Homo sapiens: one gene and its partners. The protein of the gene in region 4 purifies or fractionates together with the protein of the main gene of each other region. This does not show direct contact. Each region holds a gene or a part of one and is shown on either strand. Other genes may lie near its edges.

Evidence for each region.
Region 1: the proteins of TAOK1 (region 4) and RCC1L purify together in Homo sapiens (affinity purification with mass spectrometry, with the first as the bait; one large-scale study listed by BioGRID). This does not show direct contact.
Region 2: the proteins of TAOK1 (region 4) and RASSF2 purify together in Homo sapiens (affinity purification with mass spectrometry; one large-scale study listed by BioGRID and IntAct). This does not show direct contact.
Region 3: the proteins of TAOK1 (region 4) and SLIT2 purify together in Homo sapiens (affinity purification with mass spectrometry, with the first as the bait; one large-scale study listed by BioGRID). This does not show direct contact.
Region 5: the proteins of TAOK1 (region 4) and TRPC4AP purify together in Homo sapiens (co-immunoprecipitation; one large-scale study listed by IntAct). This does not show direct contact.
Region 6: the proteins of TAOK1 (region 4) and CPNE2 purify together in Homo sapiens (co-immunoprecipitation; one large-scale study listed by IntAct). This does not show direct contact.

The regions. Positions count from the first base shown.
Region 1 is NC_000007.14:75,060,303-75,063,802, reverse strand, and holds part of RCC1L (RCC1-like G exchanging factor-like protein), read left to right. Parts: intron 1-459; coding exon 460-511; intron 512-2,511; coding exon 2,512-2,596; intron 2,597-3,500. UniProt on the Homo sapiens protein: Guanine nucleotide exchange factor (GEF) for mitochondrial dynamin-related GTPase OPA1. Activates OPA1, by exchanging bound GDP for free GTP, and drives OPA1 and MFN1-dependent mitochondrial fusion. Plays an essential role in mitochondrial ribosome biogenesis.
Region 2 is NC_000020.11:4,785,609-4,789,108, reverse strand, and holds part of RASSF2 (ras association domain-containing protein 2), read left to right. Parts: intron 1-840; coding exon 841-892; intron 893-1,354; coding exon 1,355-1,476; intron 1,477-2,780; coding exon 2,781-2,878; intron 2,879-3,500. UniProt on the Homo sapiens protein: Potential tumor suppressor. Acts as a KRAS-specific effector protein. May promote apoptosis and cell cycle arrest. Stabilizes STK3/MST2 by protecting it from proteasomal degradation.
Region 3 is NC_000004.12:20,250,473-20,254,704, reverse strand, and holds the start of SLIT2 (slit homolog 2 protein isoform 1 precursor), read right to left. Parts: upstream 2,801-4,232; 5' UTR 890-2,800; coding exon 711-889; intron 473-710; exon of another isoform or gene 404-472; coding exon of another isoform or gene 327-403; intron 1-326. UniProt on the Homo sapiens protein: Thought to act as molecular guidance cue in cellular migration, and function appears to be mediated by interaction with roundabout homolog receptors.
Region 4 is NC_000017.11:29,543,863-29,547,362, reverse strand, and holds part of TAOK1 (serine/threonine-protein kinase TAO1), read right to left. Parts: 3' UTR 1-3,500. UniProt on the Homo sapiens protein: Serine/threonine-protein kinase involved in various processes such as p38/MAPK14 stress-activated MAPK cascade, DNA damage response and regulation of cytoskeleton stability. Phosphorylates MAP2K3, MAP2K6 and MARK2.
Region 5 is NC_000020.11:35,040,808-35,044,307, forward strand, and holds part of TRPC4AP (short transient receptor potential channel 4-associated protein), read right to left. Parts: intron 1-3,500. UniProt on the Homo sapiens protein: Substrate-recognition component of a DCX (DDB1-CUL4-X-box) E3 ubiquitin-protein ligase complex required for cell cycle control.
Region 6 is NC_000016.10:57,099,083-57,102,582, reverse strand, and holds part of CPNE2 (copine-2), read right to left. Parts: intron 1-3,500.

The DNA of each region.
Region 1 (3,500 bases), on a different chromosome or scaffold from region 4:
GATTACAGGCGTCCGCCACCGCACTTGGCTAATTTTTTGTATTTTTAGTAGAGATGGGGTTTCTTCATGTTGGCCAGGCTGGTTTCAAACTCCTGACCTCAAGTGATCCGCCCACCTCGGCCTCTAAAAGTGCTGGAATTACAGGCGTGACCCACCGCGCCCGGTGAGTTCTTTTCATTTTAGTGTTTAAAAACACTTCCCTCTAGTTCCTTGTATGTTGTTGGAGGGCCTTAACACCACTCTCAACTTTGGCCATGTGTTAAAATCACCTAGGATTTTGTTTGGCTTTACTTTCATGACCAGGCCTGACTCGACCTAAGATTTGACCTTGAGAGTTACCCCAACAGTTACTGTGTGAGCGGAGGGGACGGGCCATCAGTTGGGGTGACAGGGAAAGGGCTGCACAGTGCTTGTCATGACCGCATCCCTTGCTTCTTCCCAATTTGTTCCTGGCTGTAGTGAAAGTCACAGAGTCCACAGGATGCAGGACTTCGATGGCCAGGTGGTCCAGGTAAGAGAGATGGGCCGAGAGCTGCTTGTTGTGTTCCTGGGGTGCTTTTGAAAAGTTGAGATTTGGGTAGGGTGATGGCAAATTTGTTAGGGGGATTTTCTGAATTAAATTATTTTAGTAAAAATTGTAGCCTACTTACTATAGGCCAGGATTTATGCTAGATTCTAGGGATACAAAGTTTAATAAGATTTTGGGGCCGGGTGTGGTGGCTATACCTGTAATGCCAGCACTTTGGGAGGCCGAGACAGGTGGATCACCTGAAGTCAGGAGTTCCAGACCACCCTGGCCAACATGGTGAAACCCCGTCTTTACTAAAAATACAAAAATTAGCCGGGTGTGGTGGCACATGCCTGTAATCCCAGCTACTCAGGAGGCTGAGGCACAGGAATTGCTTGAACCTGGGAGGTGGAGGCTGCAATGAGCTGAGAGATTGCACCACTGCACTCCAGCCTGGATGACAGAGCAAGACTCTGTCTCAAAAAAAAACAGATTTTTGGGGATGACACTCTAGTGAGTGAACAAGTTAAAAAGCTAACTGAGGCCGGATGTGGTGGCTCACACCTGTAACGTCAGCCTCTGGGGAGGCTGAGGCAAAAGTATCACAGCACTTGCTGTATTCATGCATATGTGCATTGAAATATTTATGATAGGTACCTACCATGAGCCAGGCACTATTCTGGGGATGAGAATAAAATGGAGAGCAAAATACAGCTGGCTTAGAACACCACAGCACTAATCATACTGTGATACGGCTGGCTTTTTGGTTTTATTTGGAAATTTTTTAGAGGCAGGGTCTCATTCTGTTGCCTAGGCTGGAATGCAGTGGCACGATCATAGCTCACTGCAGCCTTGAACTCTTGGGCTCAAGTGATCTTGCCTCAGCCCCCTGTGTAGCTGGGTCTACAGGTGTGCATCACCATCCTCGGCTAATTATTTTAAAGAGACAGATTCTCACTGTGCTGGCCAGGCTGGTCTCAAACTCTTGGCCTCAAGCCATCCTCCCGCCTTGGCTGCCCAAACTGTTGGGATTATGGGTTAAGCCACCATGTCAGGCCTCCTTCACCTATTAGACTGAGTGACTTTGTGCAAGTTACCAGACATCTCCAAGATAGTTTCTTTTTCTTTTTTTTTATTTTAGTGCAGTGGCACAATCTCAGCTCAGAGCAACCTCTGCCTCCTGGGTTCAAGCGATTCTCGTGCCTCAGACTCCCGAGTTGCTGGGATTACAGGCATGTGCCACCATACCTGGCTAATTTTTGTATTTTTAGTAGAGATGGGGTTTCACCATGTTGGCCAGGCTGGTCTTGAACTCCTGACCTCAAGTGATCCACCTGCCTTGGCCTCTCAACGTGTTGGGATTACAGGAGTGAGTCACTGTGCCCAGCTGAGATTCAGTTTCTTACTAGGTGGTTTTGGTTATTGACTTAACACAATGCCTGGTGTAAAAATTGTTCAATAGATGGTGCTTTTCTTTAGGCAGTTAGAAAAATGAGTTTGGAACTGAGGAGAGTTGTTGAGACCAGAGATCACAGTGCAGAGGCCACAGTTAAGCATTGAGAATGGCTCCCATCTCCCAGGGTAGCATGAGGAGTGAGGAGAGAGGAGGGCAGGAGACACACCCTGGAGAGAGATCCCAACAGCAAAGGGTCTGAAGTAGAGGCTGAGTGTGTGAGCAAGGCTGGAAGCTGTGAAAGTAGAAGAGAGGGCTGGGAGGAGAAGGGTTATGGAGAAGGGGTGGTTCTTTGGAGATGGCGTGGGATGGATGGCAGAGCTCTTGGATTTGCCCCTTTGGAGATCTGCATTTTACTTTAACAAGAGCAGTTTCAATGCAGTGGGAGACTGGTAGATTGAGAAGGAGTAAGATGAGCATGGAGCAGTCTGCCTGGACCATGCTCCAGGTGCCCAGGAGCGGCAGGCGATGGTGCTGGTCCTTCTTTGGATGAGGACACCAGGGTTCTAAGTATTTCCTCTCATCCCCCTTACCTCTGTTTGTCTGCTAGGTCGCCTGTGGTCAGGATCATAGTCTGTTCCTGACGGATAAAGGAGAAGTCTATTCTTGTGGATGGGGTGCTGATGGGCAAACAGGTAGAGTTCTTTTCATGCACTGGGGTCGTGAAACTTCTCAGCCCGTGTCATGTGGAGCTGTGAGCTGTAGGGCATTTATGGGCTAGAACCCTTCTTCCTTAATTCAGCTCTTACCTCTTATCACTTTCTGAGGAACACTATTCTTGGCTCCATCGCCCAAGCTGGAGTGCAGTGGCGCGATCACATCTCACTGCAGTCTCAAACTCCCAGGCTCAGGTGATCCTCCCACCACAGTCTCCAGAGTAGCTGGGACAACAGGTGTGAGCCACCAAGCCCAGCTAATTTTTTGTAACAACAGGGTTTCGCCATGTTGCCCAGGCTGGTCTTGAACTCCTGACCTTAAGCAGTCTGCCTGCTGTGGCCTCTTGGTGGGCTGGGATTCCAGGCAGGAGCCACTGTGCCCTGCTGTAATACTTTTTTTTTGCATCCCTTCCATTCCCCTCAGCCCTGGCTCCCATAGAAATGAACTGAGAGAAGGCTGGGTGCAGTGGCTCACACCTGTAATCCCAGCACTTTGGGAGGCCGAGGTGGGCGGATCACTTGAGGTCAGGAGTTTGAGACCAGCTTGGCCACCATGGCGAAACCCCATCTCTACTAAAAATACAAAAATTAGCTGGGTGTGGTGGCACACGGCTGTAATCCCAGCTACTAGGAAGGCTGAGGCAGGAGAATGGCTTGAACCCGGGAGGCGGAGGTTGCTGTGAGCCAAGATCGCGCCATTGCACTCCAGCCTGGACAACAGAGCAAGACTCTGTCTCAAAAACAAACAAACACAAACTGCAGAGAAAAGGACAGGCAGGACCTGCCCAAAGGCAAATGTCATTATTGGCACTTGGTATGGGGGTAACCCCTGGCCAGCAGCCCAAGGCAGAGCACTGAACTGTAGACTCTTGCCTTCATCCAG
Region 2 (3,500 bases), on a different chromosome or scaffold from region 4:
TCTGTGTTTTCCACAATCTCTTGGAGACCAGAGATCTTTTGGAGACCAGGTGTTCTTATTTTTAATGGAAGCCAGTGTAGCCTAACAACCTAAGAACACAGGCTCTGGGTTCAAATCTCCACTGAGCACCTGCTAGTTGGATGAATTGGGCAGGTTACTTAACCTGCCCCTGCCTCTGCTTCGTCATCATAAAATGAGGATAATGGGACTTCACTATGGTATCGTCGTGAGCATTAGATGGGTTGAAGCCTTTAACATTTGTAGAACTATGCCTGGCACATTGCAATAGACGATAGCTGTTATCTATCCTAGTCGTGTGCTACAGAATGACCAATTTGGTCAATGATGCACCACATATACGACAGTGGTCCCGTAAGATTATAATCCATTTTTTATGGTACCTTTTCTGTGTTTAGATATGTTTAGATACACAAATGCTTACCATTGTGTTACAAGTGCTTACGGCATTGAGTACAGTAACATGCTGTATAGGTTTGTACACTAGGAGCAATAGGCTATATACCATATGGCCTAGGTGTGAAGTAGGCTATGCCATCCAGGTTTCTGTAAGCACACTCTATGATGTTTGCACAACAATGAAATTGCCTAGTGACACATTTCTCAGAATGCATCCTCGTGGTTAAGTGCATGACTGTATTATTGATAAAGTCATCTGCCTTCTCGATCTTCTCATCACTTCTGAGAGTTGTAGATAAATAGCTCTCCCCTCAAAACAGCCTAAAATTGACTTAGCTTTGCATTGCTAAAGAAGAGGAAAAGCCTCGAAGTTGGGATGTTTAAATAGAAACTTTCAACAAGAATCTTTTGCTCCTGCTTCAGATTGAGAATTCAGCAGAGGAGTTTGCCTTGTACGTGGTCCATACGAGTGGTGGTAAGTCTGAAGACCACAGTGTACTTTAAAACTTCTAATTAACTCAAAATAGCAAGTTAAAAAAATACCTCTGCCTCCTTTGCTTGTTGTTTGAGTTTTGGAAACTTCCAAATGTTGTTTGCCTTCAAGGCTGATGGGCTTGCTGTATGAGTCTACTAGGGATTGCCTTATATGGCCAGTAAACAAATTCTAAACCTAACTGCCTATTAAAAGAGGAACTAGATTTTCTTAAGAGACAGATAAACCCAATTCCTCCAAGGAGTTTGAGGCATGGTGGTATTGTTGAGGGGTGAGGAGTGGGAGGAAGTTGCTTTTCACAACACCTATGGAATAGTTCACTTATAAATCAGTCTCCTGACGTATATGGCGGCATCTCCTAAGGTGCCTTTGGACCCCTGCATTAACCACTACTTAATGTGAGAAAGGCCTCTCAGGGCTGCTCCTGGGTGTGTGTGGTTGCAGAGAAACAGAAGCTGAAGGCCACCGATTACCCGCTGATTGCCCGAATCCTCCAGGGCCCATGTGAGCAGATCTCCAAAGTGTTCCTAATGGAGAAGGACCAGGTGGAGGAAGTCACCTACGACGTGAGTTCCCTTTGGGTCAGGCGATCTGTCCTCAGGAGGGTGGGGATTTGGTTGGACCACCTGTAACTGGGGTATAGAATGACTTTTTTGACCAACGACCATGCCCCCTTTTACTTCTTCAGCACCAGGTTCTCTCGAAGCCAGCTTTTGCAGAGTAACAAACATCTCCAAATCATAGTAGCTGACAACAGCAAACATTTGCTTTTTTGCCCATGATTCTGTGGTCTAGTAGCAATGGCTCTACTCTAAGTATGGGTTGAGTTCAAGTCTGCACTGTGTGACTCACCCAGAGGCCCAGGCTTTTGGGGCAGTAGTTACTGCACATGGGTGTGGTCCTCATGGCAGATGGCGGAGCATGAGAAACCAGGCCAAATCATGTAAGCATATTTGAAGCCTCCACTCAGATTTGGTGTGTCATGTCCACACACATTCCACTGGCCAAAGCCAGTCACATGGACAAGCTCAGCATTAATAGGGTAGAGAAATGTACTTATCCCAGGGAGAAGAGTTGATAGAGCAGGGTGGGGATTCTTGTGGGGAAAGGGAAGCCATTTTTTAACTTTTTTTTTTTTTTTGGGATGGAGTCTCGCTCTGTTGCCCAGGCTGGAGTGCAGTGGCACCTCCCTGGTTCAAGCTATTTTCCTGCCTCAGACCCCTGCGTAGCTGGGACCACAGGTGTGCACCACCATGCCTGGCTAATTTTTGTATTTTTAGTAGAGACGGGGTTTCACCATGTTGGCCAGCTGGTCTTGAACTCTTGACCTCAAGTGATCCGCCCGCCTCAGCCTCCCAAAGTGCCGGGATTACAGGCATGAACCACGATGCCTGGCACCGTTTTTAAACTTTAACTCACCCCATAGCCACCCACAGCCTCTCCAAAGCGAGTTCATATTTGGATGCTTGTTTGAGCCTTGAGACCCAAATCGTCATCTGGAACCCTGATTCCTTCCATTCTCTTAGGGGAGAACAAAGGGGTTTATTAAACATAATGGGTTCAGTTCTTTCTCTGCATCACTGTGTCAAAAGAAAGTACTTTTCTGTGTTTGGCTTCACCTCATCATGAATTGAATGCATGACATGAAAAATGAGAAGTTATGAGATGGTGTCACGTAAGCGAAGCGATCATCGCAGACTCCTTCCCACCCTGGTGAGGAATGAGGCTTGGCTGCTGCCTTTAAGGAAATCCTGGGTTTCTGAAAAAAATAGACTTCCCAAGGCTTTGTGCCTTGTATAAGGACAACCCTGAAAGGAATTGGAATAATGCTGGGAAGGGCATTCACCCAGACTTGCTTCTTTCTCTCTAGGTGGCCCAGTATATAAAGTTCGAGATGCCGGTACTTAAAAGCTTCATTCAGAAGCTCCAGGAGGAAGAAGATCGGGAAGTAAAGAAGCTGATGCGCAAGTAAGTGTGGCTTCTGGGGCACTGGGTGCACTTCTCCTGGGGCCTCAACAGAGGGGCCTCTGCTGGGTCCTCGCAGGGACTGTGCTGAGCTGCTGCATGGGCCTGAGTCTCGGCTTTCTTTGGAGGGCTGCCCATTGACAAACCTGGATTTCAAGTGAGGACGTGACAGTTAAGTGTGTTCATCTACTTCTTGTGTCAGCTTCTCGTTTTGATGTGGGACATCAAAGTGTCTCTTGTCCTCCCTCTTATGGAAAGACTCTGAAAAGAAGGTGTTGGTTTAAAATTTCTTTGGGGTCTAGATGCAGAAATAGGGAAGGTGACTGTACGCTGGTTTCTTAAGTATACGATCAGGCTCCCAGCAGGAGACAGATGCTCACTCCGATGAGGGTCTTTGACGGGTGTTTGAAGAAGGGACTATTTGCGAAGACTTGGGCAGAGTCTGGGGTAACCTCAAGGGATAGTGCAGTCCCTGGGGCTAGTGTTACCACCCCTTGCCTGAAGGGGTGAAGGCAAGGAGTGCTAACCAAGACCCGGAGGTTCCAGGGATTTCAGGAAGGCTGTCTTAGCCGTGGATGTAGCCTGAGCTACTGGCCTCCAAAATCCTCTCCTCTCCCCCTTCCTC
Region 3 (4,232 bases), on a different chromosome or scaffold from region 4:
CGCTTAACGGATGGGACACGGTCCTCCCTCGCAGTCGCCCGCTGAGACAAGTCCCTAGGGGCCTGACGCCGTCTTCCCCTCCCCGGAGAAGTGGGGGGCGGGGGGCTGCGCGAGGCTACTATGCGAGGTGTCGCCGTCCTGGGGCACCCTTCTCCCCGCGACCTGTGAGAAGCACCCCCAGGCACTCCATGACCCCTTCTTCCTAACCTTCGCCCCCAGGAGGGTGACAAAAAATCGGGGAAGGCAAGTTTCTCTCTTTTGAGTCTCCCTGCTATCCCCTCCGCGCCAGCCTGCGACAAGAGCGAGGACTGGGCTCTGAAACCGACCTGGATGCTGGCAATCGCAAGGTGACTCCGTTTATGGACTCTGGAGAACAAAGTGGCGTCTCACTTGCCCCGGGCATCCTCCAGTACTTGTCCCCTATCTACCCGCTCCCCAGCCCCAGAGAACTAGCCAGCAAGGAGCTGCGAGTGGCGGGACGAGAGCAGGGGAGGGAGAACTAGCGCAGCTGCCAGCGGACCCGCCCCTCCTTGGACAGAGGCCCTTCCCTGGCCAGTGCCCTCCCGGAGAGCTCAACCCCAGGATGTGCATGGGGGAGAGCTAGCGAGGGCTGCCCCAGGCACAGGACCCTGAGCTGACAGGTTCCTCCAGTGGAGGCAGGGGTGCGCGGCCCGGATGGGGAGAGGGGAAGACGAAGAGCGCATACTCACAGTCTCTCGGTGTTGCGGGGGATATTCCTGGGCACGCTGCGCAGCGCCAGCCCGTGACAGTCCACTGTGCTGCCCGAGCAAGAGCACTGCGCCGGGCACGCCTGCGGTGCCACCTTGTTCAGGATCGCCAGCACTAACCCCAGCGACAGGGACAGCATCTGCCAGCCAACGCCGCGCATCTTTCCCCGCCGCCTCCTTCCTCGCCGGCACTGGGGGCTTTCTTTAGCTTGCTGCTCCGAGGGAACCGCGCAGTGTCTGAGGCCCAGTGCCCGGCGGGGCTAGCAACCCAGAGTGCCAGGGAAAATGTGCACCAAATAATATGGAACAAGGCAGTAGAGCCCACTCAGGCACACGCCTCCCACCGCCCTCTCCACCCTCCTCTGGCAGAGCAGGAGCTCCTTGGGCAACTTTAGGTCCTGAGGATGAATCCGCCTGGCCAGGGCTGCAAGGAGACCCCAAGAGCAGCGGAGAGGAGATCACGCGTCTTCTGTCTCCCAAGGATGAACTTGGCGGTAAAAGAGCTGGGGCTTCCAACGGCTGCTAAGATGCAGGGGCCGGTTGTTGTGGGGAGGGCGGTCCTCTGATCCCACGCACGCTTCTGCAAATCCGATGCCAGTGGCGAAGGTACAAGACAGAAGAGGGGATCTCAATAGGTATTATGGCCCCGATCAAAGTGGGCTCCGGAAGCTAGAAGGCGCGGAAGCCCAGCGGGCCCGTAGCAGAGCGCGCGGGGCAACTGGGCATGGCGCGCGGGGGTGCACGGGGCGGACGCGCAGTTCTGGGGGCGCACGGCTCTGGACTCTGCTCACTCACGCGGCCTCTCCCTCGCCCTCGACTCCGCCGCAGCCTGGACCGGTCCTCGCGGTCTCCCGACAGCCAACGATGGTTTACAAACACACATGCACTTCGCTGAAGGATGTCTGGGCAATCCCGCCTCCCGCTCGGCGTCCTTGGCGACGCTCTGCACCAGGACCTGCCCCGAGGTCACGCAGAAAAGACAAAAGGGCAGTCGGGCCGCCGCAGCCGGGCAGAAATATCCACTAGTCAGCACTCCGGCGAGGAACTCCAAGAGGCCAAGTGGAGGATGAGAGCTGCTGCGAAGACTGAGTGGGGACTGACTGGGGGCGGACTTAAAAACCAGGCAGACCGGAAGGAGTGGAAAGGCAAAGGCCAAGGTTGGAGGTGTCAGCGTCCTGCTGGGGCGTACTGGAGAATGGCTCGGTGGCAGGTGGGCGGGTGGGATCCACTACTCCAGGCAGAGCCAGGCGGCAGCTGAATGGCAGTAGTGTGTGCGCGCGTGTCAACCCCGCTCGTCTCCCAGATAAGCCGCAGCTCCGCGGCAGACACCTGATGGCAAAGGTAGAAGAAACAAGAGCCGGGTTCCGGAGGGCGCAGAGCCACGGCCGGCCCCCGGCGGTCTCCCACTAGTGGTTCGTCCTTCTCAAAGTGCAGCAACTTTTCCCAGGCTTTGAATTCCGTCCCCCAAGGCCACAGTGGCGGTACCCCTGCCGGCGTGGCGACGCCGCCCGGCTCCTGGCGCTGCACCTGACGCGGCGGCCGCAGTCCCGGGTAGTCCTTCTCCTTCTAGCCCCTTCCCCTCTCCCGCTGCTTTCCTGGCCTCCCGCTCCAGGGAGCGAGGTCGGGGAGAGGGAGGGCGACGACTCAGAGCGGGGACTCGGTGGCTCTGCCGACTCCGGAGCCCCTGGCAAGTGTCTAAACAATAGGACGGACGCAGCAGCCCAAGTCTCGCTTGTCTGGAAGGAAGGTGGGTTGTTGTCGTAACTGGAGTTGTTCGCTGGGGCTGACTGGCGCTCAGCGTAGCCAAACAAAAACCCGGCCCGCGCCTCCGGAGCCGGCTGCGGGCCCCCGGCGCTCCCCTTTCTGCTCAGCACTCCCGCCGTGCCCAGAAAGCGCGGCAGCTTCGGCCTGCGCCTGGGCGCTTCGGCGCTCCCATGCCTCGCAGCTGCCTCCGCCTCCGCCGCCGCCGCCGCCGCCGCCTTCTTTTTTTTAACCACAGTCTGCGGCAGCCACCACCACCGCCGCCGCCAAGCTCCGCCGTCCGGGCGCTTCCCAAATAAATAACACCAAGTCCGAAGTTGAGCCGGCGCGGGCCTTATATAGCCGCCCGAGCCTCCGCCCCCTGACCCCGCCCCTCGAGGCCCAGGCCCGCCCCCTGGCTCCGCTCTGGGAGCCCGCACCTCGCTGGGGAGAGGGGAGAGGTGAGGCCGGGGCTGCCAGCGCTGGGCGGAGGCGGCGGCTGGCGGCGCGCGTTCCCGTGCGCCCTGGCTCGCCCCCTCGCTCCCACGCGCGGGCAAACTTGGCCCGAAGAAGGAGCCACCCGAGCCCCAGCCCCCAACTCCTTGGCCCCAGAGGTGACCTGGGCTCGGAGATAGTCGTTTGCAGTGGGAGAATGGGAAGAGGTCGGCTTTGAACGCGGCTCATAAATAAACAGCCCTGCCAGTGCCTCTCCTGCAGCTTTTGCCACGCGATCCTTAAGGGGGCTGCTCACTCTTTGCAGCGCAGCAAGAGACAGAGAGACAGAAACAGAGAAATTATGATTTAAATTTAAGAAAAATCCTACCGAAATAGATCTGCCTGCGCTTACAGACACACACGTGTATTTTGGGGAGCTGAAAAGTTCAGTTTTTGCAAGTTGGAAAACAGCATTTTCCAACCTTCTTGCTTGCCTTTCTATCTCCAAGCCACCCCCTTCCGTTTAACCCTTCCTTTGTAGACACACACTGAACCACACCGTGGTCAGTTGATGTCTTGGATATTCAATAGGCTCACAAAACTCTTAAGGGCTTGAACGTATCTGTGTGATTTTTTACTCTCTTATGAGAGAAAGGAGGGGAAAAAATAAATCCCTAGCAACGCACATTATACCAGAAGGTTTTCTTTATTTCAGGGCAGTTCTGGATATTTTTTTCCCCGCTATGTTTTGAAAGAGAATTTCCTTGTTTCATCTTGTCTCTTTAGTGTGACGTATGTCTGGCAACGGCTGCCTCTCTCGCCCCCCTTTCCCCCCCAGCAAGAGCCAATGTCACTGTAAGTTTGAAATGACATCTAAATGACTCTGCTCCTTCTCTTGGATTTAATATGCATCATATTGTTGTTCTTCCTCCCATTTCCACGTTAAGAAGCTTTCCCTGGAATTTGTGCAAGCCCCCGCCTAATACCAGCCTCATATTGTAGTAGTTATTTGTATAATTATTAGAAGCTTCCTTGAAAGCAAGACCTGTCCAACTCTTTGTATTTCCAGCATCTATGCCTGCCACATAATAGGTTTCCTCATAAGTAACCGATTTCTTTAACTCAAGAGTATGCTCAACCTAAAATCTCTGCAATATCCTCATTAACGTTTTTCCTGGTTAACATTTTCTAAGATGTCCTTTCATAATGGCTACCCCTACTTACCTCATTTTGCCTGCCTTGGAAAACGTAAGCCTTTTCGAGGACACGCCCAAAGGCAGGGTACCATCTGATAACTGAATTGGAACTCTTAGGATTACTCATTTTAAT
Region 4 (3,500 bases):
CCTCACCCAATACCAAATCCTTCTCTCCCAGTGGCCATTTCCTGTTGATTTTACAGTTCAGGAGAATCTTAGATGCTTTAGCAGTAATTCCTTTCTTGGCTGTTTTGATCCTCAGCAAAGTATATAATTATTAGTATTAATGGAGTAAAAAAAGTAAGAGGATCAATGGTATCACTACTAAGAAATACATATAGAAAGCACATAAAGATTGTGTGATTTATTGGTTCTTTTTCTTATCATCTTTGCAGAGGAATCACCATCAGTGTTCTTACTTTCCATGGTTCATTTCTCTCTGCATTACTTATCTCTTATTGCATCACAACACAAACTCACAGAAACACTAACTGGCTCCTTCCCCAGCACCATTTTACTGCATTGCAACTTATGATTCCAAATTTTACTTAATGTCCTCTCCACTCACAGAAGTGCTAAGAGGGGATTAAAAAGGAAAAGACTGCATCTAATGACCACCTTCTCATAAACATCAACGCAGAGTACTCATTCTTAAGAAACACATGCATTCTTGCCTTAACTGAGGACTGAAATAACAAAACCAAACAAAAATAACAGAACTTTTAAGTGCCCTGATGGAAATGTACAGTATGAGTTACATCCATCCATCTATACACACATACAGACACTCATATGTATATACAATATATACATACAAATGATAATAGCTATACCAAAAATGTGCATATTTAATACAGTTTTAAAAAGCCAGTAGATCATGGTATAATACAATTTATTTCCACTAGTGAATGGCACAAATGGAGAAATGCAAAGGAGGTGTTTCAAGTACAATGAAGTCATTTTTCACAGGTGAAAATAAATAGTATTATTCCAGTGTCCAACATAATGTATTCTACAAAAGTTTAAAATGCCAGACATTTAGTACTTACAGAAATAGAAAGTTACTAAAGTCTGCTTTATGGTCTCAAAAAGACACTCATAGAGTTTTCAATTTTTGAAAAGGGGGTGAGAAAAAAATTGGTGGAAGCAGGAGGGAGTGTCCAGGATAGTTTCTTTAGTGTACTGAATGTTTACCTGATGTCTAGGCAACCAAAAATCATGACTATGCTAAAATGTTCCATTTACCAACAAATCCTTGACCTAGAGTACTAAGCATATTACACCAGTGTGTGTGGCTTCAAATACAAGACTCTCTATCTCTAGGTATTGAAATGGCGAATAAGAATTGCAGCTCTGAAAATATAATATAAACACATTTTTCAGATAGCATTATACAAATAAAAATACTTTTGGATACTAGAATTTGGGGTTAGAGCTGACTTCAATAAGGGGAGGAAAAAATATGTGCAAAGGGAAGGGAGCTCAATTTGGAATAATATATTTCAAAGTATGTGGCTTTGCATTTTTAAAATGCTAACCAAAAAAAATGTGAGATAGAGTGACCCCAAGGAACTTTTTACAGCCAGCCTCTGGATACCAGATATAGCATTTACAACTTCTGATATGCTAGACAAATTTTCCATAGTTTTAATTTTCTTAAAGACATATAGTGAGTGAACACCAACACTGGGAAGGAGGTAGTGTTAATTTGATCAAATATTGATATTTCCCCACTGATTCAGAAAGTGCTTGCTCTTTCTCTAGGATATCTCAAAACCCTTCCAATTTTTCTGCTACAAGCTTTACTCTATGATGGTTCCTACTATGTATGAGATTCCTCAGAAGCTAGATCTCACAAACATATACAAACCAATTAATTTGAATCATTTTTTGCAAACTGTATATACTTTAAAGTTAACTTAATGATAAAATCCAGGTATAGTCATGACCTACATGTAAAACTGGTGGCCAAATACATTAGATACAAAACCCTACTGGAGATCTGAATGGACTCAGTAACTCTCAATTTGACTAATTTAAGTCCACAATTGGACTTTAAAATGTACCACCAATAATATTTTGGGTTTGAAAGAGTTTTTGTATGCAAAAGTGATCTGCTTCCCTATTCCACCCATCCAGTAGTACAGAGCAGCCAGATCTATGAATAATTTTTAAGGGTATCAAATTGTATTTTTGACATTTTATTAAATTCTAAAGCTCTCTCGTCATTTTACACCAAATAAGTAATTTCTCAATTTGTTGGAAACGCTATAATACCTGAATGCAAAAAAGATACTGAGACGACTAAAAGCCCCTTTCACTGATATTACAAGTACATGTCATGTCATGTTTACCTAAAAACCGGTGACCTGGAGCATGGGCTGAAAGAACAACACATAAGAGTGCTTCTTGAAACACTGCCTAAAATTTTGTGTGAACTCTATGGTGATCTTGGTTTTAAAAACATTTACATTAAAACATTAATTTTCTTCCAGTTTCCTTAAAATGAATCCCAGAAACTCCTACAGGTGAGGATTCATGGCAACTCGACTGACATACCTGGGAAAGACTTAAAATTTGGTTGAGAAAACCAGGACTTCAACAGTGATAGATTGATTACTGTTTGGTCATTAGTTTGGTCTAGGCAAAGAGTGCCATTGAGAGGGACTTAGAGAGTTCTACCTTGGAGCCCTCTGACTATAGGAAAAGCAGGATCCAGAGTTAGCAGCAAGGATTCTTCAAGACAACTTGGAAGGGAGCAGGACAATAACTTGTAAGAAACTCTGATTTGTCACTGAAAAGGATATTTTTCTTCAAGTCATACTCACAGCTTCCTACCCACCTCCAACACAATTTATATACAAGAAATGGAAAACCAAGAAAATAACTGACTTTTTAGCATTGGGTTCATCCTTCATTGTACAACAAAACATAACAAAACAAAACATGTGCCCCCTGAAAAATAAGAGTTAGCTTTCGTCAAGAGATTCCCTGACCACTATAACTTATTTTACTTTTTTTTTTTAATTGGCCAAACTTCCTAGTTCCTTTTCAGTAGTACTTTAGCACTGAGGCTTGAGACTTGTGGAAGTGGTGTTTCCTATTGTGTGATGTTAACTTGATGCCAAATGGTCACTAAGTCTCAACGAACTAGAAGTTTGTAAAGTACTGCAGCAACGAAAACAGCAATTAAAAATAGAGGACCTGCACATGCAGCAAAATCTACAGTGGTGATGAAGATTAGTCAGCAGCTGGTAAAGTCATTGGCTCAGTGACTCCTGGTTCACTGTGGCAACTAAACATTTAAATAATTGGCTATTCTACTTGTAAACAGAAAATCACATAAGCCAAAAGGAGATAACAATTATGTCTATGTAGTGTGACGAGAATTTCAATAGATGGCAATTTGCAAATATGGCATCAAACACCTCCGGCATTTGATTTGTATTGGCTATATGTCTTTGTTTTTGTACAAACAAAGTAAAAGTACTGTTTGGGGTCTTGGGCATTATAGAGCTTAGCTAGGATGAGATATCACAGTATAAGCAACAAAACGTCAGGACACGTAAGCTTCATCTCCTCACTCTGCTGCGGGACATACCCACCATATGAACTTTCAGGGCCCCTCTCACCCTTCTGGTCTTCCC
Region 5 (3,500 bases), on a different chromosome or scaffold from region 4:
GTGATCGTGTGAGCCAATTCCCCTAACAAATCCCACCTCATAAATCCTACTGCTTCTGTCTCTCTGGAGACTGCTGCCTAATACAGGGAAGTAATTAAGGTTAAATGAGGTTACAAAGTGTGGGGCCCTAAACCGAGAGGACTGGTGTCCTTCTAAGAAGAGGAAGAGACACCAGAGATCTCCGTCTCTCCTCAATGACAGAGAGGAAAATTCATATGTGGATACAATAAAAAGGTGGCCTTCTACAAGCCAGGAAGAAAGGCCTCAACCAGGAACCAATCCTGACAGCACCTTGATCTTGGACTTCTAGCCTCCAGAACTGTGAGAAAAATAAATGTCTGTTAGTTAAGCCACCTAGTCTACGGTACCTTGTTATGGCAGCTCAAGCTGACTGATACACACACCTGAGATAAAGGCATTCACTACTGGAGCGCAATTCAAGAATGATAACATTCAGAGGACTAAGACTTTCCTCATCCACTCGTGATTTAATTATGTCCACCAGCTTGGCCTTCCCAGGGCATTTGAATGGAGAAAATCGTGCGGGTAAGGGAATGGAGTAGGAATTATGGTCAGGGTTGGGAAGGGTCAGATCCTGCACAACCTCATGTGTGGAACTACAACTTTTAGGCTTTATCCCAAAAGCTACAAGCAGAATCACACATAGACTGTCTACTAGGCTAGTCACACAGATATGAAAGTGAATCTAGATTATTTTATAGAGACTTTAAGAAAAAACTCCCAAATAAAAAAACAAAAACAAAAACTGGGCTTTCCGTTCTCAGTTAATCAAAAAAGCCCAGCTGACCAGAACAGTTCATTCCTCAAGAATAATGGGTAATGCTGGTTTTACTTAAGTCAGTTTACAAATAGGCATCTGAAAGCAATCAATACTAACAGGATCAAAATCATCTGCCAGAATAGATTCCTTAAATGGGAAACTAAAAGATGAAAGTTACTTAGTGCCTCGGCATACACAGGCATCCAATACAGAACCTTTCTAGCCCTCAGTTTCCTCACATGTGCAATGGGGATACTAATCTCTATTCCACAGGGCACTTGAAGGATTAAATAAAATCACTTCTAGGTAAAGCAGTTACCCAGCGTTTGCCACATACCAGGAGCTTAGCAAATACTACCTTTTGTCAATGTATATGGAGGTGTGTACACCAGCTCTGAGGTATAATTTAGTTATAATGAAAGTCACTTTTTTTAAAATTATACTTTAAGTTCTAGGGTACATGTGCACAACGTGCAGGTTTGTTACATATGTATATATGTGCCATGTTGGAAAGTCACATATTTTTTAAAAATGTAAATTTCCTAAAATGAGAACTCCCCCAAAATCATAAAGGAGTGGGAAGAAAACCGTACACAGACCAAGGAAGACCTTGTATCTAGTGACACAGGAGGAAAAGCAAATCTAGAGAGAGAATAAACTGGGGTTGGAGTCCACAAACTTCTACCTTTACATATGACTACAACATGTAAAATTATATTCCCTAATAACCTACAAAGTATAGTTATGATCACCTCATGTTCCTAACTAAAACTAGACAATAACAGAGTGAATGGCAGGTTCATATTCAGCCTCAGGAGAGGAGGCTGCTCTGAAGCACTTGATAACTCTGCAGAGCCAGCCTGGGGAATGCACACAACTGGACTTTAGAAACAAAGAACTGTTTTCAGAGCATGATTAGGGCTACCTCTGCATGGTCATGGTTTTCTACTGCTGCTTTTTAATGATACATTTGTATAATTTTACCTTGTTTATTTGGTGTACCATAAGGTACACAGTGATAGGTTTTTGTATTAACAATATTTCCAGCCTGTTAACATTGAAAAACTAGCTTTTAAGACACAAGTTTCAGTTCAAATATGAATTATCTACACTCTTATGACCAAAATACATCTATGCCAGTTTCTCCAAAATCTGTGCAGGCAACAACATTTTAGATAGAACACAGTTCTTTTGCTACTGAACAGAAATAGGTGGGCTAGATTGGTTAGAATAGTGTTTTGTTTTTAAGTAATATATTTACACGGTTCTAAAATCAAACAATATATGAAAGTATACAGTAAGGAGTCCCACTCCCACTGCTACTACCTTCCCTTACCAGCTACTTCCTATTAATAACCACTTTATGTTTCTTGTGTACCCTTTGTTTCTTTAGGCATACCATATATGTGGGCAAACGTATGGTCTTATTCTCCCCCTGACTTAATACAAAAACTATACCATATACACACTGTTCTGTATTTTCCTCTTTATCATTAATATATCTTGGAGATTTTTCTATAGCAGTACATAGAGATCTTCATTTTTTCAAAGCTACACAATTTTCCATTATATAAATATTGAATACACTAAGCAGTCCAGTGTTAATGAACATCTGGGTTTCTAGTCTTTTGTTATTACAAATAATGTTGCAATGAATAATTTTTTTTTTTTTTTTTGAGACGGAGTCTAATTATGTCGCCCAGGCTGAAGTGCAGTGGTGCAATCTGGGCTCACAGCAACCTCTGCCTCCTGGGTTCAAGCAATTATCCTGCCTCAGCCTTCTGAGTAACTGGGACTACAGGCGTGCACCACCACACCCAGCTAATTTTTGTATTTTTAGTAGAGATGGGGTTTCGCCATGTTGGCCAGGCTGGTCTCAAACTCTGAACCTCAAGTGATCCTCCTGCCTCGGCCTCCCAAAGTGCTGGGATTACAGGCGTTAAGCCACCGTGCCTGGCCTCAGTGAATAATCTTGTACAGTAGTCCTCCCTTAGTCAAGACCCTCACAGTGGATACCTGAAATGGCAGATAGCACCAAACCCTATATATACTATGTTTTTTCTTATATACACACATAACTATGATAAAGCTTAATTTATAAATTAGGTACACTAAGAGATTAACAATAACTAATGATAAAATAGAACAATTGTAACAAGATGCTGTAATAAGAGTTATACGAATGTGGTCTCTCTCTGGAATTTTTCAGTTAATATTTTCGGATTGCAGTTGACCACGGATAACTGAAACCACAGAAAGTGAAACTGCAGACAAGAGGAGATTAGTGTCTATACATCATTATCTATAAAATGAAGGCCCAGGAGAGACTTAGTAGATCAAAAAGTATATGCATTTGTAATTCTGATAAAAAGTAGTTCTTAACTTTTTTTGTGGTTCTGAGCCCATTAACAAATCTAATGAAAGGTATGGAACTCAGTTCCCAAAATAATGAACAGATACACAAAATTTACATACTAGGAGCCTTCACATGGATCCATCTCTAGAGATATTTAAAAGGGGTGCTAGGTGTGGTGGCTCACACCTGTAATTCTAGCACTTCGGGAAGATGAGGTGGGTGGATCACTTGAGACCAGGAAGTCAAGACCAGCCTGGGCAACATGGCGAAACCCCATCTCTACAAAAAATACAAAAATTAGCCCGGTGTGGTGGCACCTGCCTATAGTTCCAGCTACTCAGGTGGCTGAGGTGGGAGGATCAC
Region 6 (3,500 bases), on a different chromosome or scaffold from region 4:
CTGATTGAGAAACACGGCTCTAGGCTCTCCCTCCAGGCTGGTGGACACAGCATAGGGAAGCCCAGAGAGACCATGGTAGTGACGGGGGACTAGGGATTGAATTATGGGCTTGGATACACAGCCCTCAAGGTCTTCGAGGTGGGGCCCACTCCTGGGTGCTGTGGCTTCTGGGACCCTCAGGGCCTCCAAGTCCTTCTGCACCCAGCATATCCTGGCAGTGGGGTCTCATCTCTGATAGCAGAGGCTCCTGTGGTGGCTCAGAGCTGTCACCACGTGTGGTTTCCAGATGGGTCACCTACGCATCTCCCCGGAGCCTGCTAGAAATGCAGCACCAAGCGGGTGCGGTGGCTCACTCCTGTTATCCCCGCACTTTGGGAGGCCGAGGCAGGTGGATCTCGAGCTCAGGAATTTAAGCCCAGCTGGGCAACATAGTGAAACCCTGTCTCTACAAAAAATGGCAAAAAAAAATTAGCTGGGCATGGTGGCATGTGCCTGTAGTCCCAGGTACTTGGGAGGCTGAGATGGGGGGAATCACCTAAGCCCGGGAAGTCAAGGCTGCAGTGAGCCGTGATCATGCCACTGCACTCCAGGCTGGGCAACAGAGTGAGACCCTGTCTCAAAAAAAAAAAAAAGAAAAAGAAATGCAGCACGCTGGGCCCACCCAGACCTGCTCTAGCAGAAGGCCTAGAGTGGTGCCCGTAGGCCTGTGTTTTAACATGCTCTGCTGGTGGTTCTGATGTGGGCTAAGTATACACAAATCACAGGTTAGCTGAGTACGTGGGGCATCTTGTTCAAATACAGATTGTCATCCAGCAGGTCTGGGGAGGGGCCTAAAATTCTGTGTTTCTAACAAGCTACAGCTGATGCTGGGGCTGCCCCCCTGGAACCACACTTTGAGACACGAGGCTACAGATCAGAAGTTGCAATGTGGCCACCCCATGGCTGACCACACCCCAGGGATGGCTCTAGTGTAGTTGGATTTGGCATAATGAGGCAGGTGTCACACTTGGTCTCCATACAAGCCCTGCTGGCTTCACACACCGAGCTTCCAGCCAGGTCTCTGTAGACTTCTGAGTTTGCAACCTCTAGTCTGGATGAGAATGCTCTGTTAACCAGAACCCTCAGCTAACAAGACACCCATTCCCTACGGGCCCTGATGGCTGCTAAGTTTACTGAACTTTTGGGGGGTTGGAACGTATCTTGAATGCATCCAGGTCTAAATTGCCTCCTTCATCCCATTTCCCAGATGAGAAGATCCAGGAAGATAAATGGCAACCATATTAGTCCAGGTTTTCTGGAGAAACAGAACCAATAGGATATCTATCTATGCAGAGAGAGAAATGTATTTTCAAGAATTAGCTCATGCGATTGTCGGGGCTGGAAAGTCCAAAATCTGTAGGGCAAGCCAGAAGGCTGGAAACCCAGGCAGGGTTTCTATGCTGCAGTCTTGGGGCTGAATTCCGTCTTTGAGAAACCTTAGTCTTTGCCCTGAAGGCCTCTGATCAATTGAATGAGGGCCACACATAATGGAGGGTAAGCTGCTGGACTCAAAAGTCTACTGATTTAATGTTAACTGCATCTAAAAACTACCTTTATTTGACCAAACAACTGGTCACCAAAGCCTTGCCAAGCTGACACATAAAATTAACCATCATAGCAATCTTTAGTTCCTAGGAGATCTGTCATGGGGCAGGAAAACAGGGTGTTAGGGCAGGAGCTCTGGGCTAGCCCTTCTTAAGTGTGGGAGCTCAGAGAGCCCACCCCCACCCTGTCAGCTGCAAGAGAAGGGTGAAGGTGGGTGTGGCCATGCTGATGGAGAGATAACCATAATAAAATGAGAATAATAATGCCTGTCCCAGGTCCTTGAAATTCTATAGCTTCACAACATCCCCAAATGAGGTGTTATCATCAGCACTCCCATTCTCCAGGTGAGTAAACCAAGGCTAGGAAGTTGAATCACTTACCCACATGGTTCTGGTCCTCTGGCTCCCAGCCCAATACCACTCTACCTATTGGGCCTCCACTAATGTGACTCTGGACAAGTCATTGGTCCTTCTGTGTCTCAGTTTAGTTTTCTCATCCAACACATGGAAATTACAAAATGCTTGACGCACTGCAGATACTGGCTCAAAATGAGAAAAACCTCTCCATGGCTTTCGGCTGTTCTCAGGACAACATCCAGGTTCCCTGATGAAGCTCTCAAAGTCCCCTCCCTCACACTTTTGGCTCTAGCTCTGCTGTTTGCCACACACAGTTTCAGCAAGTATTTTTCGTGCCTCCCTAATTCTGCATATGCTGTTCCATCTGCCTGGAATGCCCTTCCCCCTTCTTCACTTAGTGATTTCTTTCTTCAAACTCAGCTCAGTAAAACCAAATGCAGCCGGGCATGGTGACTCATGCCTGTAATCCCAGCACTTTTGGAGGCTGAGGTGGGCGGATCACTTGAGGTCAGGAGTTCGAGACCCAGCCAACATTGTGAAACCCCATCCCCACTAAAAACACAAAAACTAGGCAGGGCATGGTGGCTCACACCTGCAATCCCAGCACTTTGAGAGGCCGAGGCAGGTGGATCACAAGGTCAAGAGATCAAGACCATCCCGGCTAGCATGGTGAAACCCCATCTCTACTAAAAATACAAAAATTAGCTGGGCGTGGTGCACGCGCCTGTAGTCCCAGCTATTCGGGAGGCTGAGGCAGGAGAATCGCTTGAATCCAGGAGGCAGAGGTTGCAGTGAGCCGAGATCGCACCACTGCACTCCAGCCTGGCAACAGCAAAACTCCGTCTCAAAAAAAAAAAAAAAAAAAAATCAAAAATTAGCCGGACATGGTGGCGGATGCCTGTAATCCCAGCTACTCAGCAGGCTAAGGCAGGAGAATCACTTGAATGGGGGTGGGGTGTGGAAGTTGCAGCAAGCTGAGATCGCGCCACTGCACTCCAGCCAGGGCAACAGAATGAAACTGTCTTAAAAAAAAAAGCACTATGCACCCACCCCCACCCCCAGGACGGCCAAAATTTTAAAAAGCTGACCATACCATGTGTTGGCAATAATGCAGAGCAACTGGAACACACACAGGTTGCCAGAGGGAGTGGAAATTGGTGCAACCACTTAGGAGAAACATTAGTGCCCAACGAAAACACTCACGTATGTTCACCCAAAGATACACACAGGAATGTTCATGGCAGTGCTAATCCAAATAATCCCAACTGGAACTCCCCACCCAAACCCCCATGATTGGAAGAAGGGAGACATAACTGGTGAATGAACACACAGCAGACCACATACAGCCAACTTGAAGGAAGAACACAGGTAGCAATAACACGGATGGGTCTCACACGTGCTGTGTGAAGGGGGCCAGAGAGAAAGGAGTATGTCATCCTATATGATTTCACTTAGGTGCCCTTAAACATGGACAAAACAAATCTATGCTGCTGGAAGTCAGGATAGCAGTAGGACACGTGGACGGGTGTTACTGACAAGAAGGGGACACCGGGGGCTTTG